Regions from separate parts of the Homo sapiens genome. Here regions 1, 2 and 3 are each reported to be linked to region 4. Evidence: microRNA targets listed by miRTarBase, many of them from high-throughput screens and not tested one by one. Region 4 holds a microRNA gene; each other region holds the end of a gene's coding sequence.

The links. Region 4 holds the annotated microRNA hsa-miR-199a-3p (ACAGUAGUCUGCACAUUGGUUA, at 3,727-3,748, shown strand). A microRNA usually pairs through its seed, bases 2 to 8, with sites in the 3' UTR of a target mRNA and lowers its output. Matches are read on the target gene's strand: a 7mer-m8 pairs with bases 2 to 8, a 7mer-A1 pairs with bases 2 to 7 and ends in A, and an 8mer does both.
Region 1: the mRNA of CCDC59 is a reported target of hsa-miR-199a-3p. The part of its 3' UTR that is shown has no 7-base or 8-base seed match.
Region 2: the mRNA of TMEM18 is a reported target of hsa-miR-199a-3p. Seed matches in the 3' UTR shown: 7mer-A1 at 2,300-2,306.
Region 3: miRTarBase lists CEP55 as a target of hsa-miR-199a-3p. Seed matches in the 3' UTR shown: 7mer-A1 at 1,217-1,223.

Annotation. Positions count from the first base shown.
Region 1 is chr12:82,348,453-82,353,605 of GRCh38, reverse strand. It overlaps CCDC59 (coiled-coil domain containing 59), which reads left to right. Exons shown (of 4, transcript NM_014167.5): 4 at 294-1,303. The coding sequence ends at 455. Among named protein-coding and RNA genes, the nearest start is that of CCDC59, 7.4 kb to the left of the region's middle.
Region 2 is chr2:665,143-670,295 of GRCh38, forward strand. It overlaps TMEM18 (transmembrane protein 18), which reads right to left. Exons shown (of 5, transcript NM_152834.4): 4 at 4,615-4,708; 5 at 1-4,533. The coding sequence ends at 4,438. Among named protein-coding and RNA genes, the nearest start is that of TMEM18-DT, 9.7 kb to the right of the region's middle.
Region 3 is chr10:93,527,172-93,532,302 of GRCh38, forward strand. CEP55 (centrosomal protein 55) reads left to right here. Exons shown (of 9, transcript NM_018131.5): 9 at 779-1,921. The coding sequence ends at 982. Among named protein-coding and RNA genes, the nearest start is that of CEP55, 33 kb to the left of the region's middle.
Region 4 is chr19:10,816,024-10,821,176 of GRCh38, reverse strand. It overlaps MIR199A1 (microRNA 199a-1), which reads left to right and starts at 3,681; the gene lies at 3,681-3,751. It overlaps DNM2 (dynamin 2), which reads right to left. Exons shown (of 21, transcript NM_001005361.3): 16 at 1,088-1,197.

The DNA.
Region 1 (5,153 bases), not on the chromosome of region 4:
CAGATGAAGTGCAGTAATGACCATTATGCTGTAAAACATTTAATGTCCTTTTAAAATTTTGTTTATATAGAGCTGGGGCTTTGTGATCATGAAAATTCTCTGTTATACCATGGGTCATTATAATATGAAGGCAAAGAGGGTACTTTGCTTCAATTAGGAGAAACAGTGCACATCTTGCAAAATAGAAGAGACAAACCTTAGAGTGTTTGCTTAGTAATAGCTATTTCAAGACAATTTCTGAACTGTATCTACTGTTTGTTGCTAATGAAAGTTACATATGTTAATAATTTTAGGAATTCGAGAGGAGAAAACAGGAGAGAGAAGAAGCCCAAAGGCAGTACAAAAAGAAGAAAATGGAAGTGTTTAAAATACTGAACAAAAAGACTAAAAAGGGCCAACCAAACTTGAATGTACAAATGGAGTACCTTCTTCAAAAAATACAAGAAAAATGTTAAACATTTTGTTCCTACAGGTTAAAATATCTGCTGCCTATTAGGTTCTTCTGTGACATGTGCCTCCCAGCAGTGAACTAAATTTGTCGACATAAACTGGATTGCTAAACTATGCTAAATATAAGATGTTCACATATTTTTATTATGGTAAAAAATTTTCTAAATATGTTCTACATGTTTCTTATTTATTTGCCTCTGAAGGAAGGTTGGCCTGAAGAACTGAAAGAACCTCTTATTTTGCAAGACAGGCCCAAGCATGTAATACTTTTGTACCATATGAGATTTATATGAAATAAATTTTTTAAAAATAAGGAATCAGAGCTATCAATGAAGCATTTCAATGAAATATTTCAATTTAGTAAACAGTTACGTTGTTTTAAAATTTATTTTAATGATGAGGGAGGCAAAGACTCCTCTTGGACTTTTTATTTATTTTAAGTACATGTTACAGGGTGATGGGTGCTGAAATAAACTGCCCTCACCATATAACAAAGCGACCTTCACAAAGCAGTGAACTCAAAGTCTGATATTTATAAACATTCCCTTAAATGGATGTACATGGCTTGTTAGTCTAAGGTCTTTTAAATAATGATGGAAACCCCACAGTGTCACAGCAAGAATTAAGCTTTCCAGTTCCTATGGACCCTATACTTTAAGAACATTATCTCTGTCTCCCTTGTTGGTACCCTTGTGAGCTGAGATAAGCCACTGGGATAACTGCTTCTCATGCTTTGCAAATTGCAGAAGAATGAGAAAGGCTTGAAATATATATATAGTCATTGTAAGCAAAAAGGGCTGACCAATAATACTTGCCAAATATTGAATAATAAAATTTTATAAATGATAGCAAATACAGTCTGAAATTGCATTAAGATTTTAGGGAGCTCTTTCAGTCTACTAATTTATTCTGCATTTCAAGATCAGTAGAAAGTGCTTAGATAACACTGAACTTAATCTTCATTGCATAGAAAAGCAATGCTTTAGAAATTTGCATTGCACTATATTGCATTTAAAGTAAGCAGCCCAGAAAGCCTAAATTTGGCTACATTGGTGAAGACACATCACATCATGATGGAGGATAAATTATTTCAGTAAATTGCTTTACAATTTTTGTGCATTTTCACTTCTAGACACTTAATCATGACAAAACATGGAAGGAGATCTAGTCCTTTTGAGAGACAAGTGAAAGTCAAATTATATTCATTTTAACGACTTTGTTAAAAGCTACTTTATGCAAAACTTATATTAAGGAGTTACTCTTTAAAATTCCAAAGTTCTTGTAGAGGAATAAATGCCAAGTAATGGTATAATGGGGGAAAAAGTAATCAGTGACAATCAGATAAAGCAAAAGGTTAAGATTTTAGTGTTATCAATGAAGCACCCAGGAAGCTTTTCCTTTTTCGTTTTTTTTTTTTTTATTATCTTGGTGGTGGACAGTCTCCCGCCCACGCTGCAGTGCAGTGGTGTGATCATGGCTCACAGCAGCCTCAAACTCCTGGGCTCAAGTTATCCTGCTCAGCCTCACGAGTAGCTGGGACTACATGTACGTGCCAACACCTGGCTAACATTTTCTGTAGAGATGAGGTCTTGCCAAGTTCAGCCTTGCCTGGGCTGGTTTTGAACTGGCCTCAGGGATCCTTATGGCTCAACCTTGGCCGTACAAAGTGCTGAGATTATAGGTGTGAGCCACTGTGCCTGGCCTATAGGCTTCTTAAGAGGCATGTTTGAGGACCCTACACTAAGGAATTTGGATACTGTAGATGGGCTTAGTAATGGATGTTTTAACAGGCAACCCCAGTGATTCTGCTGGGTTGCTCCTCGCCACACTTAAAAAATGTTGGACCAGGGCCTCAGAGAAGAAAGAGGTTTTGTTTGGTTTAAGAAATCAGAGAAAGTTTCATGTGTGCAATAGCATTTAAGGAAAGCCTTCGAGGTTAAAAAGATTAGAAGTGTAAGAGCATGAGGAAAGTTACAAAGGGAAGCAAGCTTGGTATTATTTAAATATCTAATAAGTAGTTAGAATATATTATTATTGATGGAGGTAATAGTTCCTATCGGTTCCCTATTGTTTCCTTCCATGTGGAGAAGACACCATCATCCAAACACTCATGGTATCTTTACTTCTTGTCCCACTTGTTCCACCCAGGGGAGGTAAAGTAATAAATGATGTCTGGGAGGAGGACCTGGGCTGTCAGCAGAGTGCATGTACTCTTAATTGCTATTCTAATACTATAAGTGAAGAACAGGCTATATTGATAAATGTTAGAAGGGGGATGGATATTTTTGGAAAATATATATAGAAATTTGTGCTATATGGGTTAGTACATCAAGAAATAAAAGAGGAATAAAATTTGAAGGAGCACAACATAGAAAGAGAGAGGCTTAATTGTGGCCATAGCTTATGGTTTCTGGTTTCAGACCTTAATGTATACGTAGGGAGCTTTGATCTTGGTAGTTTGTAGAGGCTTCTATTAGGGCTATTAATTTGACTTTGTAAGTGTGAAGTAGGCTTTTAGTTGCAGTTTTGGCAAGAGGCTTTAAGACTTAAGGCACGTGGGATTTTGACCTAAAAGTTTAGGATATCTTTGTCCAGAGAAATTGGTAATTTCTATAGAGACAATGTGCAATACTGGGCTTTAAGCACATATGCGCAGGCCTCAATGAAGCAGAGTTTGAGTGAGGGTGATGGAGACATATTGGCTTCAGCAAAGACAGAGAATCTGGAAGTGGGGCTCACCCAAATGCTGGCCTCATGGATGTCCTCACCAGATGCCAGCCCAAGGTGAGGCTTAGCAAGCTACTGTAGTGGTGCTGGCATCAACAAAGGCACTGGCATGTGCAAGTGGTCTCATGCAGGCTACTGCAGCTTGACCTTGGCCTACATTAAATATGCATGTGTGAGCAGCAAAGGCCTCACTCATCAGATGCTGCTAACTCGACACCAGAAAACAATTTTATTCGTGGCAAGGATTTAATGATATAAGAAGAAATATTCATAGCTATGCTAGATGTTAATGACTGTATCAGTATTTGCTACTTTTAAAGACATGTGCCTTGGTTGCAATATAAAGTTCTAGAAAAGCTCAAGGTCTAAATTGTTCTGAGAGTCATTGAAATGCTGTGTAAAAGAGAAAATTTTGAATCTGAAGATATTTGAACATACTGGGAAAAGATCAGGTCTCCTTTGACTTGGTGATTGGGACTGGACCACTCCAAATTCTATACTTGGTAAGATAGCATCAGTGTTTCAGATGTCACTTTCTGAAAGAGAAGATAGAGTACCATGCTAAATGCATGGTGAAAAGTTTAACTTGTTGCTGACAAATTTCTTCCAACTTAGTTTAAGTGTGCAGCTCATGTGACTGGCATTCTGATAAGGCTAAAGCCATCACCGGTTATCTTCCTTCCTACTGATTCATGAGTTCCTGCTATAGAGTTTCTGCTACATGTAGTCTTTGGCAATAAATACTACTGAGTTTTGGGAGCATAATTTTGTACAGGATAACTGCCTTTTAAATTTGGTGGGTATAAGGCAAGTATTGTAATTACCTTGGGTGTTTTATTGACTCTCCAGACCTTTTGTAAGTTGAGGCACACCATAGAGTTATTGAACTAATTTAACTTCTGAAGTGCCAAATGAATGTGTTGTATCCATATCCAAAAAGAGACAGCCAGGCTGCAGCTGCTGAAGGAATCCTGAGAGGCATTAAGAACATTTCTGCCTGTGAGTGAATCCAATAAGAAACTGGGAAGGGCTTTAATTTTATTGAACTTTTACCTTATTACAGTGAGAGAATTTGATTCTGGGTTTTGATTATTTTGGTCTTTGGACATTAACTTGAAAGGTAACTTAATATGTAGACTTAATTTTCTCCCCAGGAGTTTGATAAGAGGAAAGATTTATACTGAAAGGTGGGACATCTGCATTTTGCTGGCAAATTAACATTGGGTGCTTTTTATGTATTTGGATAATTCCCATTGAGAACACTTGATTGAATCACCCATGGAGCTGATAGAGAGCCCTGTGGTGGAAATGCTACTTATGGGCCTGATGACCTTGGGTTTTACAAAAAGATTTATTGAGGTATAATTGACTGAGCATACATAAAATGTTCAATTTGGTGACTCTTGACACTTGCATATGCTCATGAAACCATCACGGCAATCAACTACCTATCACCATCACTTCCTAACGTTTCCTCATGGCCTGTTGTAGTCAATCCCAGGCAGCCACTAATCTGCTCTGTCACTAGTATGCATTTTCAAAATTTTTATATAATCAGGATCATATACTATAAACTTTTTTGTCTGGGCCTCTTTAAGTCAGCATAATTATTTGGAGATTCATCCATGTTGTTGGATTTATCAAAAGTTTGCTCCTTTGTATTGCTGAGTGTTCTATTGTATGGACATAGACAATTTGTTTATCCATTCACCTGCTGATAGGCATGATAGGCATTCTTTTTTTTTTTTTTGAGACTCAGTCTCACTCTGTTGCTCAGGCTGGAGTGCACCAGTGCATTCTCAGCTCACTGCAACCTCCACTGCCTGGGTTCATATGATTCTCCTTCCTCAGCCTCTCAAGTAGCTGAGATTACAGACGCATGCTACCACACCTGACTAATTTTTGTATTTTTAGTGGAGACAGGGTTTTGTGACGTTGACCAGGCTGGTCACGAACTCCTGACCTCAAGTGATTAG
Region 2 (5,153 bases), not on the chromosome of region 4:
AACCCAGAGATGCAGACGCCCAGCTCAGATGGAGCATCACTCCCACATACAACAGAACCCAGAGATGCAGATGCCCCACTCACTCCGATAGAGAATCAACCCCATATACAACAGGATCCAGAGATGCAGACACCCCACTCACTCAGATAGAGAATCAACCCCACATAAAATAGAACCCAGAGATGCAGATGCACCACTCACTCAGATAGAGAATCAACCCCACATAAACTAGAACCCAGAGATGCAGATGCCCCATTCACTCAGATAATCAACCCCACATACAACAGGACCCAGAGATGCAGATGCTCCACTCACTCAGATAGAGAATCAACTCCACATACAACAGGACCCAGAGATGCAAACACCCCACTCACTCAGACAGAGAATCAACCCCACATAAACTAGAACCCAGAGATGCAGATGCCCCACTCACTCAGAGAATCAACCCCACATAAAATAGAACCCAGAGATGCAGATGCACCACTCACTCAGAGCAACAACCCCACATACAACAGAACCCAGAGATGCAGATGCCCCACTCACTCAGATAGAGAATCAACCCTACATACAACAGGACCCAGAGATGCAGATGCCCCACTCACTCAGATGGAGCATCAACCCCACACACAACAGGACCCAGAGATGCAGATGCCCCACTCACTCAGATGCAGCATCAACCCCACACACAACAGGACACAGAGATGCAGATGCCCCACTCACTCAGATGGAGCATCAACCCCACACACAACAGGACTCATGGAGGCAGTCACCCAGCTCACTCAGATGGAGTGTTAACCCCACGCACACAAAACCCAGAGATGCGGATGCCCAGCTCACTCGGATGGAGTATTAACCCCATGTACAACAGAACCCCGAGATGCAGATGCTCAGCTCACTGAGATGGAGCATCAACCCTACACACAACAGGACCCATGGAGGCAGATGCCCAGCTCACTCAGATGAAGCATCAACCCCATGCACAACAGGGCCCATGGAGGCTGACATCCAGCTCGCTCAGATGGAGCAGGAGCTGCTGAAGGGTGTTTTGGCCCAGGACTGGAGCAGAAGGCAGTAGCCCTGAGGCTTACAGAGCAGACCCTATGGCCACATGCTTGGACTTAGGCCTCTGCTTGGCTGCCTGAAGGCTGCAGGGAGCTCCTTCTCTGTCCTCAGGTTCCTTTCAGGGCCTGTGCCAGTCAGCGCCTCCCCTGGCATAGGTCTTGTGCAATTTCTAATGACAGCATGATTCGGAGACTATAATAGCTACACCTTCCCCCAAAGCGAGGAAAGATCTAACTGTACAGGCCGCTGTGAAACTGGAACATCGGAGGAAGAGGAGCTAGAAAGCTTACCAGGCCGATGAGGATGCTTGCTGTCAACTGTTCCAGCCCCACTCGGAACAAGCTGCCACCAACGCATGGCACCCACAGCCTGCGTGGGCCTCGCCGCCCCATCCTGCCTTCCCTGTGCAGCAACCAGGGCTTGGAGACATCTTCGCACCATCCTGGGACTGGGCAGCGCCACCCCCTGGGTGCTCTTCTCTGCCCTGGCTCGCTCCCTTCCTGCCTCCGAGAACTCTGCATGTGGAGCCCAGCCCCGTCCTCCCCAGGACCGACTTGCTGGTGTAGTCGACCAGCAAGAGGGGCTTCAGTAAAGAGGGGAAGGCTGCACTGAAAACATGTTCTGGTTAACTTGGTGAAAGAAGAAGGGTGCTCCACTGAAATCCAGACAAGGAAGCCTGAAGTTCTTTTCCAGGGAAAAGATGCTTGGGCCTGACCGGTATATCTCTGACGGCAATTCTCGTCTGTCTTTAAGCATCCCACTCAACTTCGCGCCACTGAAGCTCCTTACCCTGAATTCCACCCCCAGCCCTTTTTTTTTTTTTTTAACATTTATTATTTTGTAAAGGGCAAGAACATGTTAACATTTCCTTGCCACTTTACTTCTCACAGAAGCTAGCCATTCAGGTTGCATATTGCTTTCTGATTTGATATACATTATCTGTGCAAGTAGACTTTCTTCTACTGGCAAGGACACAATTGCATTTGTTTGTTAAAACTCAGCACCAGATGCTGCAGCAAAGGGACCTGCCAGCCAAAGGTGGAGCTAAGTTCCAGGTGCTCCTGTTTCCAGTTACAGTAAGGTGCAAAACAAATACCATTTTTTTGAAAAAAACAAAAAAAAATACTACATATTATTAAAGATGTATTTTATTGCATAGCAATCGATAAACGTAAGGTGTCACAGGTTTGGAATGTGAAAAATAATTTTGATCCCAAACCTCCTTTCCTGTACTTTATCAGTAGAGTAAAAACATTTGTTCTACTTAAACAGATGAAGCTCTCCAGTGAGTCATCCACATTTATGGAGCCTGAAACCAGTGTGCTCTGTGCAACCCCCAGTGCTTTAAAGTGGGATTGCACCTGTGCTTTCGTAAATTACTCAACTGCTGATCATTTTGGCTTCTATGACTTTCCCTAAAATGAGGACAACATATCAAGACAATTGTTAACAATGCACTTTAAGGCATTGAATATAAACTTACTACACAGTTAAAAATAAAGTGAAGGTTGTTTTTACAAAACCAAAATATAACTGTTCCAAAACACAGACACACACATGCAGAATGAAAATCAAAGACCACACGTCATGGTTTCACACTGACATGTCATCAGCATCAAATTCATGCAAAGCTAGCAATACTGTTACACTACTTTATCACAGGCAAACTGAGATTCAATCACACGGCCCCATATTAAGTCCAAATAACATATAGATGTTTAATTAGTCTGTTCTCACACTGCTATAAAGATACTACCTGAGACCTGGATTACTTTATAAACAAGAAGTTTAATTGACTCAGTTCCACATGGCCGGGGAGGCCTCGGGAAACTTACAATCATGGCAGAGGGAGAAACAAGCACCTTCTTCACAAGGCAGCAGGAGAGAGACAGTGACAGCAGGGGAAACTGCTGTCTTTAAAACCAGCAGATCTTGTGAGAACTCCCTCTCTATTATGATAACAACATAGGGGAAACCACCCCCATGATCCCATCACCTCCCATCAGGTCCCTCCCTTGACACATGGGGATTACAATTTGAGATGCAATTTGGGTGGGGACACAAAGCCAAACCATATCAGATGGTGAAAATGTTATACTAAAAATGCACAGTCTCTACAAACTCCCTGGTTTCTTTTCTGTCAGTGAAGTCAAATATCTACACAACGGCCCTGGACAATGCTACAGGGAGGACACATTACCTTAATCATCTTTCTGTCCCACTTCTCAGCCACAAAGGCCCGAGAGGGGCATGAACTTGGCTGGTGAGCTCTGCACCTCAACATTCTCTTCCCAGGCTTGTCTAATCAAAGATAACTGTTCCAATTACATTTTGAATTGGTAACTTTCAGAAATGCACAATTAGGCATGCTATCCAGATACAATGCACAATCAGTATTCCCTTATTGAACACCTATTTTTAAATATCTGGGTCTCTAACCACCTGTCATTCTTAAACTACAGGTCCACATTTGACAGGAACCAAGAGCCACTGGGCAGGAGCTATTTTATAAAGTGGATATTGCAAAGTAACAGTATGCCTGTCCTAACAGAACTGGGAGCATTGTGTTCCCAAGCACCTAAATCAACAGAACACCAGGACATTAGGAAAGACACGCTTCTCCATGGAGTGTTGACTTCAGGGCTTCCATTCTGTTTTCAGTAAAGCAGCCCATAACTTTGCTAGAGAGGGCCTAGCCTCTTGTGAATTGGTTCATCAAACTGAGATACAACGTATTTTCCAAGAGCTTCCTTCCAAGGTCTCTCTGCCCCAGCACAGCTGACATTTCATGTCAAGTCATTGTCTGTGATGCGGCTGACCCAGGCACACAGGATTTTATGCATCACCCCGGGCTCCACAGGAGAAGCCAGGAGCACCACCCCCTCCAGTGACAACCAGGTGTCTCCAAACTTTGCCCCATGTCTTGGAAGGTGAAAACACCCTCTACTGCGAACTGTGGCATGCACTAGAAAACACAGCACGAGGAGGAGGGCATGGTGCCCATGTACAGGTGGCACTGTTTATTATTGAGTTTCATATTTTATATTGTGTATTTTATATTTATAATTAGTACTAGTTACACATATGACATGGACTTCTTCAAATCAAATTCCCAGTTATGAAGCTCTGCAGAGACCGTTCCCACAGCCTGACTACAAAGATCAGGCACCTGAAGACGCATGTCCTGATGGATACATTCAGTGCTGGCTGAAAAGCCAACTTCAGTGTGTGCCCTACCACTGTGGATATTTAAATAAAACAACGGTTTTTCAAACCATGAGTCAGCTGGAAGGATGCCCACGCCACGCACACTGCAGCACTGGGAGCTGCACTGGGTGGACGGGAAGGACGCAAACTCCAAGCAGCTGCTGCCCCTCAGTCTTCTTTCCTTCTCCTTTTCTTTTCCTTTCTTCTCTCTTGTGCATTCTTCAGGTCAGTCATCACATTCAAAGTCTTCCATACCCACATAACCTAAACACAATTGTTTGAGACATGTTTAGATTTGAAAAACATACACATGAAGAAAGACAACTGAAAGTGTCATCTACGTACCACAATGATCATGGCATTCACCAGCAGTGGGGCTGAAAATACTATAGAAATGAACATCCCCCTGGAGTCGAAATACTGGTATTTCGAAAATAATCTGTTTAAAAAACAAAAACAAAAAATTACTAGGCAATACAACCAAAAAGTTCTAGTGACACCGTCTATTTAGATAAGACTTTGGAGAGAGCTGATGTGGACTGAGGTGGGAGCAACACCCTCACTGGGCCCACCCTTGGGAGCAGCGGTAATCTCCACTGTACTGTCCCAAATGCAATGAATGCTCATTATGAAGAAAACACACTGGGTCACAGGACAGGGAGACACCACCCAGCAGCACAGGAAAGACCCCGAGGCCTCCCCCAGCAGAGAGACGTCACCCTGCAAGCCCTCTGGGTCATCAGCAGCACATCTGACCTTAGCTGGAAGACACTGATGACTTGAAATCCTTAAAACCTACAGAGTAACAACGTCAATAATCCCCTCCCCGTAAATGACAAAGGGACAGCAGCTGCGTCTGCTCCACAGCTGCACTGGGAAGGAGT
Region 3 (5,131 bases), not on the chromosome of region 4:
CTCCAAGTTCTTAGAAAAAAAACACAAAAAAGGAAAGTCTCAAAGGTATGATAGAATATCTTAGTCATTTCTGTGTATAAGCTGTTTGAGCTGCTAAAATTGCTTGCTGCCTTTAATTTCCATGTAGTACTTTATTGCTGACGTTGCCTCTGTTTTACAAAACTAGCAAATTTAATCAGCCTTGCATATAGGCCTACCTAATATTCGACTCTGTGTCCTAATAAAACATATTCATATATACACCCAACTCCCATATCTGGGTAATTTGGATAATTACAGTAGTTATCTGGATAAATTCACAACTACCTCATATATTACCCTCATAATACTGATGAGCTGAAATTCAAAAGAAAATCTGTCTACAGTGCTGAAGCAGCTATAATACTTATGGAACAGTTAAAATTGCTGAACAGGCTGGGTGCAGTGGTTCATGCCTGTAATCCCAACACTTCGGGAGGCTGAGGTGGGCAGATCACTTGAGCTTAGGAGTTTGAGACCAGCCTGGGCAACATAGAATTAATTTTTTGTAGAATTTTCTATTTCTACAAAAAATAGAAATATTATCTGGACGTGGTGACATGTGCCTGTAGTCCCAGCTACTTAGGAGGCTGAGGTGAGAGGATTGCTTAAGCCTGGGAGGTCGAGGCTGCAGTGAGCCATGTTTGTGCCACTACACTCTGGCCTGGGTGACAGAGTGAGACTGCCTCAAAAAAAGAAAAAAAAAAAGCTGAACATTGGCCCTATTTACAAATTCTATTATTTGAAACTTATTTTTCAGAAACAGCTTCATGAGTTTGCCATCACAGAGCCATTAGTCACTTTCCAAGGAGAGACTGAAAACAGAGAAAAAGTTGCCGCCTCACCAAAAAGTCCCACTGCTGCACTCAATGAAAGCCTGGTGGAATGTCCCAAGTGCAATATACAGTATCCAGCCACTGAGCATCGCGATCTGCTTGTCCATGTGGAATACTGTTCAAAGTAGCAAAATAAGTATTTGTTTTGATATTAAAAGATTCAATACTGTATTTTCTGTTAGCTTGTGGGCATTTTGAATTATATATTTCACATTTTGCATAAAACTGCCTATCTACCTTTGACACTCCAGCATGCTAGTGAATCATGTATCTTTTAGGCTGCTGTGCATTTCTCTTGGCAGTGATACCTCCCTGACATGGTTCATCATCAGGCTGCAATGACAGAATGTGGTGAGCAGCGTCTACTGAGACTACTAACATTTTGCACTGTCAAAATACTTGGTGAGGAAAAGATAGCTCAGGTTATTGCTAATGGGTTAATGCACCAGCAAGCAAAATATTTTATGTTTTGGGGGTTTTGAAAAATCAAAGATAATTAACCAAGGATCTTAACTGTGTTCGCATTTTTTATCCAAGCACTTAGAAAACCTACAATCCTAATTTTGATGTCCATTGTTAAGAGGTGGTGATAGATACTATTTTTTTTTTCATATTGTATAGCGGTTATTAGAAAAGTTGGGGATTTTCTTGATCTTTATTGCTGCTTACCATTGAAACTTAACCCAGCTGTGTTCCCCAACTCTGTTCTGCGCACGAAACAGTATCTGTTTGAGGCATAATCTTAAGTGGCCACACACAATGTTTTCTCTTATGTTATCTGGCAGTAACTGTAACTTGAATTACATTAGCACATTCTGCTTAGCTAAAATTGTTAAAATAAACTTTAATAAACCCATGTAGCCCTCTCATTTGATTGACAGTATTTTAGTTATTTTTGGCATTCTTAAAGCTGGGCAATGTAATGATCAGATCTTTGTTTGTCTGAACAGGTATTTTTATACATGCTTTTTGTAAACCAAAAACTTTTAAATTTCTTCAGGTTTTCTAACATGCTTACCACTGGGCTACTGTAAATGAGAAAAGAATAAAATTATTTAATGTTTTAATATGTCTAGTGTATTCGTGTATATATAGATATTCTAAGATTCTTGTTTAAAAAAACAAATGTGTTGGACATAATCAAAATTCAAGATTTTCACAATAAAATATTTAAGACATAATTCAAAGCACATTATCAAAAAAGTGAAAATACAACCAACAGAAAGAGAAAAAATATTTTCAAACCATGTATCTGATAAGGGTCTAGTATCCAGAATATATAAAGCACCATTACAACTCAATAAATAGATATTCTAAGATTCTTACCCCCAAGGACTTATCAGGGGTTACAGATTAACACTCAGTGTAAGATGATAAGGCAGTTAAGGATACATCAGAACCGAAAACTATGTGAAGGAGTTAGAAGGAGTAGATGCTTTCACGCATCTTTCTTAAATAAATAACTCTTTATCAATAAATATGAATTTGAGTTATTTGTTACAGAGGCAAAACAATAAGCATGCCAAATTATATAGGGTTTTTTTTTCTAACCATAGAAATTATACAGATCTGTTGATGGAAATAAAATTTTGCCATTACTGTTAATCCCAGGCTCACAAGATCTTCAACTACAGTTGAACAAAAGATATGGACATATTCAGCCGCATAGTTCTTATTCCGATCCACAATGTTATAGCAAAGACCATAGTATTAAATCATAAATATATGCCATAAGGAAGTTGCTCCCCTTACAACTTTAAAGCAAGCCAGTATTACCTCTAGTTTGTAGATGTGGAACATGTCTTGGTCATCCAGTGAGCAGTGGAGTCAAGCAGAACCCAGGCCTTTGGTCCGTGCCTGTATGGAACAAGAGATGTGGTCTCATGGGATAACTGGCCAGGACATAAACCATAACAGAAGCGCCAGCCTGATGACCTCTGAAGTTTGATTCCCAGAGCCACAGGGTGATCTGGAGTTTGTTTCAAGACTCTTGTACTTTCTGTGTTTCACTGGAGGGCTGTACTTAGCTTTCCCTGCTCACTTTAGCCACCTACATCTGGGCACCAATATCAAAAAAATAACTTTGGAAAAATTGGGCAGGCTTCTTGTGGAGCTCTGCTACTGTAGAGGGGGAATTTATATATTTCCGAAGAGTAGATGATTTAGAGCAGGAAGGATTCTACTTTCCCAGATCATGTTACCAAAGCAAGGGTCAATAAAAGGCATCTTCAAGACCTGAAAATCTTCAAGGTTCTCATAATTGAAGACTTTTTTTTCCCCCTTCACTGTCCACCTTTTTTCTTGGCAGATAACCGCTTACCCTTAGGGCATGTTTTCTTCTGTGGGACTGTAAACTACCAGAAACCATGCTAGATACTTTAACTACTTATACTCATTAGCTCTTCCTTGCAAATCTGTGAAGTAAAGTGCTAGCACCAGCACCATTTTTCAGATGAGAAAACTAAGGCTTGCAGAGAGTGAACAATTTGCCCAAGGTCACCACTGATAAGTAGTAAAGAAAGGATATAAACTCAGCTCAGTGTGTCGCAGAGTTCATCTCTCTCCATTGTACAGTTACATTCCCAACCAACATGCTGGGGCTGCCATGCCAGGATTACTCCACTCTGTTGCTTTTTATTAAAAAATTATGTTACATATTTTATTACACAATTATTTTACATAAAATAAAATGTACAGATCAATGAGTTTTGACAGATGTATATATATATCATTGTAATCATCAGCCAAATAAAGTTATAGACTCTACCAACATTTCTGAAAGTTTCTTTAATTACTTCTAGTCCAGAATCCCCTCCTCCCAGAGGCAATCTAATTTATTTTTATTTTTATTTATGTATTTATTTTTAGAGACAGGGTCCCCTCTGTCACCCAGGCTGGAGTGCAGTGGTACAGTCATAGCTCACTGCAGTCTTAAACTCCTGGGCTCAAGTGATCCTCCTGCCTCAGCCTCCCAAGTACCTAGGACTGCAAGCATATGCCACCATGCCTTGCTAATATTTTTAATTTTTTATAGAGACATGGTCTCATTGTGTTGTCCAGTCTGGTCTCAAACTCCTGGGCAAATGCAATTCTCCTGCCTTGGCCTCCCAAATTGTTGGGATTACAGGTGTGAGTCACCGCACCTGGCCCTATTTATCTTAACACATGCTAAATTAATAACTACACTAATTAACTAAATTACTAAATGCCACAATAAATTAACAAAATTAATAAGACTAATGCTGGAGTGTTATTGTGTCTTGAAATCAGGGTAAGTCCCCCAACTTTATTCTTCAAGAATGTCTTGACTAATATAGGACATTTCCATTTTCATATACATTTTAAAATCAGCTTGTCAATTTTTACAAAAGTTTCCTGGAATTTCCATTGGGATAGTATATATCTATAGATTAATTTCTCAAAAATTGACATCTGCACAATCCAGAAACATTTCTTCATTTAGTTCTTTTTTAGCTGCTCTCAGCAATGTTTACAGCTTTCAGTGCATAGAGCTTAGCCTTTTATTAAGTTTATTCTTGAAAGTCTGAGTTTTATGCTATTATAAATGGCCTTTTAAAAATTTATTTTCCAGCCAGGCGCAGTGGCTTACACCTGTAATCCCAGCACTTTGGGAGGCCGAGGTGGGTGGATCTCTCGAGGTCAGGAGTTCGAGACCAGCCTGGCCAACATGGTGAAAACCCATCTCTACTGAAAATACAAAAATTAGCCAGGAGTGGTGGTGTGCACCTGTAATTCTAGCTACTGGAAAGGCTGAGGCACAAGAATCACTTGAACCCAGGAAGTAGAGGTTGCAGTGAGCCAAGATCATGCCACTGCACTCCAGCCTGGGCAACAGAGTGAGACTCTGTCTCAAAAAAAAAAAATTATTTTCTAATTGTTTGTTGCTAGGGTTAGAAATGCAACTGATTTTTGTATATTGACCTAGTAGCATCCTGGAATCTTATTAATTTATTAATTAATTTTAGTATTTTCACCTCTCTGAATTCAAATATTGTATTTTACAGTTCTAGAACAGTGCTGTCCAATGGAAATATGCAAGCCTCATGTAATTTTGTTTTCCAGTAGCCACATTAAAAAATACTAAAATAGACAAGGGATGGTGGCTCACTTCTGTAATCCCAGTACTTTGGGACGCCAAAGCAGACAGATCACTTGAGCCCAGGAGTTTGAGACCAGCCTGGGAAACATGGCGAAACTCTTTGTACCAAAAAAAAAAAAAAGAAAGAAAAAAAAAATTAACTGGGAATGGTGGTGCA
Region 4 (5,153 bases):
CGAGCTTTAGGCCAGCCAGAGCAAAGCAGGAGGGAACCAGGAGACTCAGCTGGAGTTGGTGGGTGTAGCCAAGCAGTAGGCAAGGAGGTTCTGGGGCCAGCAGGGAGGACGTCAGTGCCTGCCTACAGGTCTCAGGGTACCACCGGGCCTTTACTGACAGCTAATCCCTGACTCAGGTGGGCCCTGCTTCCTGGATGAGCGTGATTGTGTGAGCATGGGAAGAGCCCTCCTGCCAGCTGGGTTTCTTCCTGAGAGCAGTGTCTCTGCTAAAGTCTCCAGCTACGCCTCATGGGACAGATGTACTGTGAGCTTCCTGGGGCCTCCCATTCTCCAGCTTCACTCTCCTGGGAGCTCATCTGGTTTCGTTCCTTGAAATACCATCCACGCAATGGTGACTGCCCAGTTCACATCCCAGACTGGAGCTCGTTCCTGGACATCACACTCCTCGATCTACCCAGGTGCCTCCCTGATGCACCCTCTCCCTTGGCATGGCCTAAATGGAGCTCTTGGCTGTCTCCAGGCCTACCTGCCGCTGCCTTCCCCACCTCGGCCAATGGCAGCAGCTGGGCAGTGCAGGAGCTCAGGCCCACGTACTCAGGGTCACAATTGGTGCCTTTCTCTCTCATATCCATGCCCACCAGGGCTCCGCCTGACTCTTCTACCCAGAATCTGCACCCTCCTTCCCTATGGGTTCTGGCCCCATCATCGCCCACTTGGACAAGGCAGCGGCCTTTGCCCTCGTCCCCCATCTCTCACCCTCTCATACTGTTTCCCTCTCAGCCACCAGAGGGCTCCTGCAAGCACCTGAGCCAGGTCCTGGTCACCCTGTGCTCAGAACTCTCCATGGCTCCCACTGACTCGGAGCCTGCCTTCATCCTCATCTCTGCCCAGAGAGGTCATCTCTGACCCAGCACGGGAAGCATCCCTGGCATTTGCTATTTCTCACGTGACTCCCCTTTCTAAAAGCTGGGTCCCAAGGGCAGGGACTGCTGACAGCCAGGTGCTCAGTGCTCAGTGAAGGTTGTGGAGTGTGAATGAGGCCATTGGTCTTCACCCCGAGCCATCCCCAGGCCCCTGGGCCCCTCACCTCTGCTCCGTGTTGAAGATGGCGAAGACGTGCTTGTTGGACATGAAGCCCTTCTCCACATCACGGATCTTGAGGTTGTCCAGAGGCAGCATGTACTTCTTCTCTTTCTCCTGAGGGTGGAGGGAAAAGAGTCACCCTGAGCGGTCCACGTGACAACTCAGGATGCCCCAGGCCAGAGCGTGTAGCATGCGCCACCACCAGCCCCGGGGGCTTCTCAATGCTGGTCGCTGCTGTATATGAGCCCATCTGCCGGCCCTTCCCCGTCCGTCACTCTGTCCCAGCCACGCTGCCCTCCATGATGCTCCCTGAGTATCCCACCTGGGTTCCTACCCCAGGGCCTTCGGACGACCGGGCTACTGCCTGATCCTGACACTTGCATGGCTCCCTCCTGCCCTAACTCTACCCGCACCCTCCCCACCTCCATCCTCCTTTTCCCTCACACAACACGTCACGTATCCTGCGCTTGTTGACCTAGGTGCCTGACTGCCTGTGCTTATTGACCTAGGTGGCTGACTGCCACTGGACTGACTCAAGTTTCTCCAGGGCAGGGACTCCTGTTGAGTTCACTGCTGACATGTGGCTGACGGCACGCACAACACAACTGCCCCTCGCCTTGCACGAAGTGAATGGAACTTTTATCTGGGCTCCATCTTTGAAACGAGCCTAGGAGTGAGTTACCTCTGTGATGCCATTTTACAGAGGGGAAGACTGAGGCAGAGAGGAGCAGGGCTGGGATTTCAACCTTGGCCGCTTTAGGACATCTTGGGGCTGGATAGGTCCTGGGCCAGGTGCTGCAGAAGCCTTACTCCCTTTCTTTATTATTATCATTATCATTATTTTAATAGAGATGGGGTCTCGCTATGTTGCCCAGGCTGGTCTTAAACTCCTGGGTTCAAGCGAGCCTCCCAGAGTGCTGGGATTACAGGTGTGCACCACCGCACCTGCCCTATCACTTGCTTTCTAAGGTTGGCCCTGTTCAGGAAGCACCAAGTGCCAGCCACGGCTGTCCAGACTGCTAGGGAGGCAGCTCAGAGGTGGGCCCCTCGGCCAGGGGCAAGGGGCTGGCGAGTCACGGAGCTGGGGGTGGCACCCTGGAGTCCCACACTCACCCAGTGATGTGTGTGCCCACCCGCCACAGCAGCAGCTCTTGGGGACCCATGCCATGCACTGCTTGGTCTCAGTTCACGGATCCCTCCTAGCTCAGAGAGGGAAGCTGGCTGCCGAAGGCCACACGGCAGGCAGCGCAAGCCACAGCAGGACTTCAGAGGCCAGGTCTCTGTGACCCAAAGCCCAGTCCTCCCCACAGTGCCCCTGGCCCTTCTTCTCCCTGGGCCGTCTCTGGAAACTCCTCTCATGTCCCCTCACTGCGCTGCCCCAGCACAAAGCCTAACCTGGCTGCCGCCTCCAAGTTCAGGAGCAGCCACAGTGACTGTGGAGAAGGCAGCGGGGGCTCCCTGGCAAGTGGGGGCCAGCTGGGACTGTCAGGACTTTGCAAGGGGAGCCAGGATGAAGCAGTGGGCTTGGCACATGGGCTCAGCCTCAGGGCGTTAGGAGCTCAGCATGGTTGAGGTGATGCCAGCCCTGCCCTTTCCTGGCCGTGTGCCCTCGGGCAAGCCACTTCCCCGCCACCTCCCATTTCATCTCAGTTTCCTCATCTATCCAAGGAGGATGGAGGAGCTTGGTGCCCACTGCAGAGCTGGTGCCCATGAGCACCCGGGATTTTCTTTGGTTGCTCTTGTGAGCGGCTCCAGGATTAGCCTGCCAGGCTCTAGGCAAAGAAGTAGGGCAGAGCATAGGAAGAGGGGCCCGGTGGCCATGGAGGGAGCAGAGCATAGGAGAGGGGCCCGGTGGCCATGGAGGGAGCAGAGCATAGGAGAGGGGCCCGGTGGCCATGGAGGGAGGGATGCCGCTGCGGACCCAAGGGAGGGAAGGTGATGAAGAAAGCCTGCACCCGTCATCCCAGGCAAGGCTGGGTAACACAGGGCCTGGGTCCCTCCCACCTTTCGGGGAAGAGTTTTGGGGGCTTTAGAAGGGGCTAGGGGAGGGGGCTCTGCAGAAGCCCTGCCCCCGGCTCGGACGTTTGCCCAAGGGCCTTTGCTGCCCTGACCCTATCATATCACGCGGCCGGAAGCTTCCAGCCAGCAGGGCCAAGTAACTGAGTCACAGGCCATTCCAGCTAATGCCACATCTGGAACTGTTTACAGTGCGATTCCGCCGAGAAATCAGTGGCCGCCTTCCTGGTGCTGCCGGCACGCACGCGTGCGCGCGCGCGCACACACACACACACACGTGTGTGTGCGCCCCTCCTCCCCACCCCCGACCCCCAAAGAGTCAGACATTCCTCCTGAGCCCAGAAGCCACGATCCCAAACCCTGCCTCCTGCTCCGCCTCCCCCACTCTTTAGGATTTCCTGAAAACCCAGAACTTTCTCCAGATGCGAGCCGGCCCCAGCCTTGCCACGTCAGAAGGGACAGAGCGGATCGTCTCGGGAAGAGTGGTGGTTTCCTTGGCTGCTCAGAGGTGCTGAGGCACGGCCTGGCCTGGTGGCCCCAGCGTCTGCCTGGGGGGTTCTGCAGGATGGATAGCCGGCCCCGCCAACCCAGTGTTCAGACTACCTGTTCAGGAGGCTCTCAATGTGTACAGTAGTCTGCACATTGGTTAGGCTGGGCTTGGGTGAGCGGCTCGTCGAGACAGGCCCCCCAAACTCGCCGGCAGGTGAGTGTCATTTTCCACCACCCCGTTTCCCACTGTGGCAGAGCCTCGCATAGAAGATTCGAGGGCCTGGGTGGGAGAAGAGGCACTGGGGAAAGGCAGAGGGAGCCCCGAGGCCGGCCGAGGGGTTGGAGGCCCTGGCCCTATCAGTCTGCCATCCCCACCCCATGGCTGTAAATGTCTTGTTTATTTTTTAAATAAAGAGATATTGATGTCTTGTGTCTCACTGAGGCATCTAAGAGGGTGGCCTCCTCCTCAGGGGTGGCTGCCACGTGTGTGACTCCAAGGGTCCCTGCTGGGATCCTAACTTGGGTGGTGGCGGGGGTCAGGTTCCATGGCTGCCCCCTCCTGAATGGAGCCTGCTTTGTGTCTGGGGCTCACACAGGGCCCCTTTCACAGGTCGGCTGTTTCTCATTACGGCCGGCGCCCGGCCCTTCTCCCACTGCTGCTCCAGACTCCAGTGTGGGGCTCCACGGGAGGGTCGGGGGCTCTGGCTTTCAACTCTCAGATGAGAAAAACACGAAGGGCCCCTCACGTGAAGGAAGAGGAGATCTGAAAACTAGACTTGCAATGCTGCCAGGCAGAGAGCTGCCAGGCTGAGGTTCAGGCCCAGAGGCTCCTCCAAGGCTCGCTGCCCCAGGCCTGGCATTCCCACCCAGGGGACCCTGGAAGGTCCCCACAGCCCTGAACTGAAAGGCAGGGCACCAGCTCTCAGCCGGCCTGACAGCCCACACACCACAGCGCAGGCTGGTTTCTCACTGCAAGGCGGAAAGAGGGGAGAAAAAGAGAAAGGGCACCCTACCCCACCCCAGCCATTTTGAGGAGCCATCCGATCTGGACACGTGAGTTCCTAGAGGTGCCTGAGGCGGGGAGAAGGCTGCAGACCACGCCTGGCTCCACACTCCTCCCACATCCCAACCCCATGAGGTTCGCTGGATCTGAGGTTCTGGAAGCTTCCACAGGGACCCCAGAAATGCTTGTATGGTGGCTCAGCAGACTCCACCACCCTGGGTTTAGAAACAGCGCCCCAGAGTCCCGCAGAAGCCTCAGGGCTCCTGAGGTTTCAGGAACATTCCAGAGATGAGCGTCTGGCCTCATGTGGAGCGGGATGATCCTTTCACCCCCAATGTCCTCAGTCAAGGGGACATCAGGCCTGGGCTGCAGCGGAGGTGTTCGGATGTCGGGCTGGGGTGTCCCTCAGGTCAGGGAGCATGGGCCCGCAGACGTGCACTGGGGAAGCCTCCACCCCAGGGGGACCCTCCCCCGCTCCATGATGTGGGGCAAGTCACCGCTCAGAGCCTTAGATGGGGGTGACCACAGAGCCACCCGAATAGCAAGCGTGAGGGTTTCCTCA